2 linked regions of the Homo sapiens genome follow. The protein of the gene in region 1 interacts with the protein of each later gene in a pairwise test. Each region holds a gene or a part of one and is shown on either strand. Other genes may lie near its edges. The genes, in order: PSME4 and MTNR1A.

The links.
Region 2: the proteins of PSME4 (region 1) and MTNR1A interact in a two-hybrid assay, tested with the Homo sapiens proteins (one large-scale study listed by BioGRID and IntAct).

The regions. Positions count from the first base shown.
Region 1 is NC_000002.12:53,894,187-53,898,017, forward strand, and holds part of PSME4 (proteasome activator complex subunit 4), read right to left. Parts: intron 3,814-3,831; coding exon 3,684-3,813; intron 2,700-3,683; coding exon 2,618-2,699; intron 1,551-2,617; coding exon 1,397-1,550; intron 891-1,396; coding exon 821-890; intron 1-820. UniProt on the Homo sapiens protein: Associated component of the proteasome that specifically recognizes acetylated histones and promotes ATP- and ubiquitin-independent degradation of core histones during spermatogenesis and DNA damage response.
Region 2 is NC_000004.12:186,535,820-186,538,856, reverse strand, and holds part of MTNR1A (melatonin receptor type 1A), read left to right. Parts: intron 1-145; exon of another isoform or gene 146-612; intron 613-3,037.

The sequences.
Region 1 (3,831 bases):
AACTGTTCAGAATCAGAAAAAGTTACAATACCATTAACTCAAGGACCAAGTACATAAACTTAAAAACCCTTTCTCAACTTTCTTTTTTTTCTTTTCTTTTTTTGGGACAGGGTCTCACTCTGTCATCCAGGCTGGAGTGCAGTGGTGCGATCATGGCTCATTGCAGTCTTGCCTTCCTCGGGTCGGGTAATTTTCCCACCTTAGCCTCCCAAGTAGCTGGGACTACAGGTGTGCACCACTACGCCCAGCTGATTTTTGTATTTTTTGTAGAGACAAGGTTTTGCCATGTTGCTCAGGATGGTCTCAAACTCCTGGGCTCAAGTGATCTACCTGCCTCAGACTTCCAAAGTGTTGGGATTACAGGCATGTGCCATGGCTCCCAGCCAAGTCAACTTTCAAAGTGAAGTAAATTAAATGAAGTTTAAGGAGTTTTAACTGAAATCTACCAACATGCATTTACGGAGATCCCATAATTTATATGCAATAGAAAACTAAAAATCAGTCATTAACTTTTCCTTCAAAACGCTTGTATCAGAACTGATACAAGAAATGAGCAGCAAATTACATAAAGCAGTAGCCAACGGAGGGCTGAATGGGGTAGTAACTCAGTCTTAGATACATCAACATCTATGTCAACTGGCACTAGTATGAAGGGGTTGAGGAGAATGGATTACATAGTCACCAATATTTATGCAGTGCTATACAGAAAAACACAAATTGTATTAAGAAAAAAAAGAAGAAGAAGAACTGAAGTGAGGTTGAGATAAATCAGTGGCCCAAAACAAGATGCATTTGAACCATGGTGAAATGGAATGCTTACCTCTGTCATATCCTCCCTGCTTCTGCCAAGCTTAGGCTGCTCTTCCACACCAGCATAAACAACCATATTCCTATATAGTAAGAGTTCATATTTATCATACGCATAGAAAAAAATATTAGAGCTTCATGGATAGAAAGCATTAGAAGGCACTTTTAATGAACTCTAACTAGATGCTAAGTTTGGGGAGATGAGTACAGCAGTAACAGTCTAGGCCTTAAAAATCTATCAGATCACTGTGTCCTAATGACAAATGGAGTAAATAAGGAGAGAAAAATATGTATTTCTCTGGGCTGGTTTAGGCATATGTATTATTAATAGGTAGGAATATAATTTAGAGCAGCTATTAATAACCTCCTTAGCCATATAACCATGGGATTCAGAAAGGCTAAGGGTTTTTGCACAAGGAAAGAGGCAGGAATGAGGCATAGCATTGGCAGGAGCAAAAGAAAGAGAGGACTAGGGAAGGGGAAAGATAAAAGAACCTTCAAGTGCCTCTGAACCTCCCCAGAAACCAAAATATGATAAAGCAGTTATATCAAAGGCATTTAATGATAAGGTGCACAGTAAGTTACTTACTTTGGCCAGGTGTAGTATCCCCAGTGAGTTTTTTCCACAAAGCAACTTGACTCCCATTCTTTTTTAGTTCTTGGTATAGTTTTGCTGTCATAATGCAACCAATGATTATCAGGCCTATCACCAGCAATAATTTGGGTGGGTTTAGGGCATCCACCTAAGGAAAAGACAATCACATTTGATGAATTTAAAAATATTCGCCCAACAATTATTACCAAATTTCAATCAACAGTACCAGCATAACTTTGTCTTCACAAAACAACACTACAAAAATAACATTAAGATAACATATATATGAGCAATTGGAGGCACATTTCAAAACAGAGTAGATGGCATTATCTACTAAATTGTGTTGAATCAGTTATTTTGGGGGAGAGATCAAGTATGAAACACACTTCATTCCTTTTACCAAAATTAAAAGGATTAATTTTGTTTAAACTATTTAGATTTGAAATAATAATTTCAGACTTACAGAGCTCAAAAAATTCCCACATCTTTTACTGAGACACCCAAATTTTGACATTTTACCATGCATACTTTGATATTCTCTCTCTCTCCACACATACTTATCTAAACTATGAGTATAAACTGTAGACATCATCTCAAATAATCAAAATACAATTCTCAAAAAAGCTTTCATTAATACAGTAAAATTATTTCATCAACAGACTTTACTCAAATTTTGACAGTTGTCCCACTGAATGTACTTTATATGAAAAAAATTAAAACATTTTCTTCTGGACTATAATCCAATCCAGGATTAAACATTGCATTAAAGGAAACTAAAGATACCATACAATTTAAATGCAATGTTTTAATCCTGGATTGGAGACCAGAAAAAAATGGTTTTTTCTTCTGAAAAATTCTGGTAATACAATAAGGTATGAGGAAGAAAATTCACCTTGTCCCTAATCCCACCACCCAAAGAGAAACATTTAACAAATTAATAACAGCAATTTAAGTCTTTGAAATACAGTTGATAAAATAATTAGTATAATTGCTTAGTAGGTGAGATAAATATGAAGGCAGAAAGAGTCAATCTATTTTTGTAAATAGTTATCACTAGCTTTTACTAAGTCAACTGTTTCCTTCATAATATTATTTATATTTTGTGTTAATATCCATAGAACAATATTTGAGGTCAAGAACTAGAATTTATACATGTCAAGAAAATTTTCTGAGTTTTATTGGAAAGCACTATTAATTACTTCTGGTAGTACTCACTGATTTCACAGGGGTTAATGGTCAGCTTTTTGTGGGTTCTTTTTAGCTGTTTAAGGATACCAGCAACAGCTGAGATAGCCATCTAGAAAAGGAAAAAGGTACACATTCATAAAAAAAAGTTTAAATCACTTAACTGGTTGTCTGCTTTACTCAAAGCAGAAATAGGATTCTGTTTCTTTAAAAAAACACCTCGCCTATCGACATCTGGCAGTACATCCATGTGAGTGCTAAATCTGACTTAGAATGAATCATAGGCAGTTCTTACTCTACAGTCTTGACACATGCTAGTCTCTCTGCCTAGAAAACTTTGACCCCTTCTTTGTTAAACCAATACCTGCTCATTCTTCAAATCTTAGCCTCAGGGTTTTTTTTTTTTTTTTTTTTGACAGAGTTTTCACTCTTGTTGCCCAGGCTGTAGTGCAATGGCACAATCTCAGCTCACTGCAACCTCCCCCTCCCGGGTTCAAGCGATTCTACTGCCTCAGCCTCCCAAGTAGGTGGGATTACAGGCGTGTGCCACCATGCCCAGCTAATTTTGTACTTCTAGTAGAGACAGGGTTTCTCCATGTTGGTCAGGCTGGTCTTGAACTCCTGACCTCAGGTGATCCACCTGCCTCAGCCTCCCAAAGTGCTGGGATTACAGGCATGAGCCACCAAGCCCTGCCCAGCCTCAGGGTATTTTTAAAGGTCTTTCTCCAATGCTTCAGCTTAGGCCATCTCCCCAACCCCCACCTCACCTCTAACACTTGGAGAGTAAAAAGCTATACCCTCGAGTTTCTTGCCCCTCCTGAAACACACTGCACACCTAATTTTCTAATTGTTAAATCTTTCCCATTAGCCTATAAACTTATTTCCTGCTATATCCCCAGTCTTTTAAACAGAGTGCCTAAACATGTTCATTTGTTAGATGAATCATTATCATCTCTGAATCAACAGGGGGAGATTTCAAATCAATACACTTCAAGATATTTATTAACCAAGTGTGTATTGCTTGTGAAGAATTTAAAGACTTCAGGTCACGTACATATTCTCAAACCCAAGACTGTAGCTAAAACAAGGTATGTACCTTTCGAACTACAATTGCATCATGGTTGAGATTCTCAACAAAAAACCGTATGGCACGAAGAGGCAACACTCGGTCATCTCTCAGCAGTAGAGACAGAAGCCCAATGCCTATATGTTCAAATTTCCAGGGCCTTAAAAGGAGGAAAAAT
Region 2 (3,037 bases), on another chromosome or scaffold:
ATACTTTAAAGCTAGTCCTATTACAGAATCGACTGCAGGTAACCCAAAACCAATACAGAGAAACCATCCTGAAGGTTCTCCTTGGTCCACTTCCAGAACCAAATTCTGTATCAGTCTGGGTTCAATCAATCCAAGAAGTAAAATTGCTAGAGCAGTTGTGTGAGCTGATTAAATAGCGTATTTGAGGTTTTCGCTTCTGTGTCTGGTGCTGCTGTCTAAAGTCCACGGATTTAAGAAGGAAAGCTGGATGTTAGGAGGGGACGCAGGGGAAGCTAGAACCTGGGAGGAGGGACTGGAGCTCTGGAGGATGGTCGAATCTCAAGCCAGGAGGAGGTGAGCAGGAGCTGGAGAAGCTGTGAGCACACTGCCGTCACCCACCCCCTGCAGGGCAGCAGATGAGACTCGGAGTGCCGAGCTTGTGGTGGCGTCTGGCACTTGACACAGACATACTGAGGGCAGAGAGCAAGCTACTGCTGCACTTCCGCCTTCAAAATCTCACGCAATTGCCTCTTGTGGGGAACACTAACCCGGAGCGGTGCAAGGAAAAGTCTTTTCAGCTTCGCGAAGTTGACACAATATAAACCCACTGTGCATCGATTAACCCTCGGCCAGGTACTGTTCAAGGTGGAGGGAGAAGATATCTAAGACAGGCAGTGTCCTCACCGAGGTGATAGCTGGGGCTGTGGGAGATGGGGAGAAGTAGAGACATAATCGCGATAAACAGAAAAGCAACGTCGTGCTGCTGTGTCATTCCCAGAAGGGACTCACAGGACTAGTTCTGAGGAAGGTACTCCCAGCAAGCTGACATTTTAGTTGTCTGTTACCTTATTTTATTCATATCTGTGCCATATTTCACTTCCACTTTAAGGTTTTATTCCTGGGAACAAATATTGACTGTGCATTTTATAGTTGGTGCCTTTAATCACCACAAGGCTGATCGCTGTTCGTCTTGTTGCCAGCATACTGACTTAGGTGTTTTCCTCCCCCATCTTCTCTTTAGAATGTTCTAGTTCAAATACGCTTCTTCAGAATTGTGCCTGGAGAGGCTGTAAGCCAGGACGTAGCCACAGGGCCCAGTTTCTGAGTCTCGTATCTGTAGGAGCACAGGAGCTTTCTCAGGGAAATAACATTGAACAACACTCACCAGTTCATAGCATTGGTATAATCCTGACTCTTTCACTAAGTAGTCGTACGACTTCATCCAATTTAACTCTATATTTTTGTTTTCTCATCTTTAAAAAGTAGGAATTATCCAGGGAGATCATTAACCCATCTCTCAATTTTAACATCCTATGATTCTATGATTCTGCCACAGTAAGGATTGGAACTATATTCAACAGAGAAGAAATTCTTACCCATGAACAGACATTATTTTACATTTCAGAATGCATTATTAAGCTTGTTGCATACAGTCCTGGATATCTGTAAAAATGGGTAGATTGTCCATATGTCTGGAGTTACATAGATTTGAGAATGGAATAGATGAACTTATAATGTGTATAATTATAATTAGATGATTTAATGACTCTTATCTGGTGAAGTTCATAAAAGAAAAAAGGAAATTCCCTTTTTCCTTCTCCGCCCAGACACCACACACCCCCCAGGCACACATGAACACTGGTGCTAAAGCTTTATGTGAGCTACCTGACAGCCGCACCTGTGGGGAGTCTGTGGCTTAATTAATTTTCACCAAGATTTGTAAAATGGGATTAATTCAAAGAATCAATGATCTAATTAATGTAATTGCTTGAATTGTAATGCAACATAATTACTATAAAATAAATGAAGCAGGGTATTCGAGCCATGAAAGAAATTTATGACATCATTTGTGATTTCATTTTTAAGCTCTTTTAAAAATAAATCCATATTAGGCCAGTTTGTCATCATGACACTCTGGGAACAAATGTGCTGTTACAATGACAGTTTGATTTGGAACAGAATTTCACATATTATAGATGCTTTTAAAGCATTAAACATTTTGAGCTAAATAATTTATTAAAATACACCTCTTAGGAATTTAAATGTTTCAACGCTAATTGAAAGTGATCTGTGGGAAAATAAATTTGCCTTTGTAACTTTAATTTGGATGAATACAACCAATTTTTAAAGTATTTGCTTTTATGACAATTTATCTGAAATTCCTAAATAAATGGCACAAATTTTGCCTTTCTCTCATCTTGACTGCTATGGGCTGTCTCATTTCAAATATTGGGAAGTGACAGTTTAATGAACTCATTGAGTGTATGAGCAAAAGTCACTGTATTTATTGGGTGTGGTCTAGGACGCAAATATGAGGAAATGTACTCACGAGGGCCACCATCTGGAGACGCAGGGAAGCCTGGCCTACAGGTCAATAGAATAGAAGGCGAAATCTTCTGTCCGTCCACCTGGGGCTCCCTCTGTCCCTGTCCAGCGCACCCCTTTCCTCACAGCTTCTGGTCTGTGCGTGCTCTGGTGCTGCTGCTTACTCTAGTGTAATTTTCTTTTTCTTTTTTTTCTTTTTTTTTTTTGATACGGAGTTTTGCTCTTGTCACCCAGGCTGGAGTGCAATGGCGCGATCTCTGCTCACTGCAACCTCTGCCTCCCAGGTTCAAGCAATTCTCCTGGCTCAGCCTTCCAAGTAGTTGGGATTACAGGTGCCCGCCACCACGCCCAGCGAATTTTTGTATTTTTAGTAGAGACGGGGTGTCACCATGTTGGCCAGGCTGGTCCTGAACTCCTGACTTCAGTTGATCCACCCACCTTGGCCTCCCAAAGTGCTGGGATTACAGGTGTGAGCCACTGCGCCCAACCACTCTAGTGTAATCTTTTTGACTTTTCCTGTCTCTCAATTCCTGTTTCCCCCTGCACCAAATATATGCATTTAATATGTAAACTGAATTGAATTTATTATAATTTAATCTGAGTAAAAAGCAGTATAAAGTGCTTTAAGACCCTTCAAAGGAGGAAGCTCTTACCACTAGGTGGGCAAATGAGCAAAGGCTTCTGGCATTTCTATTTGAGATAGACTTGGGAGAATGGGCAGGATTTAGAAAGT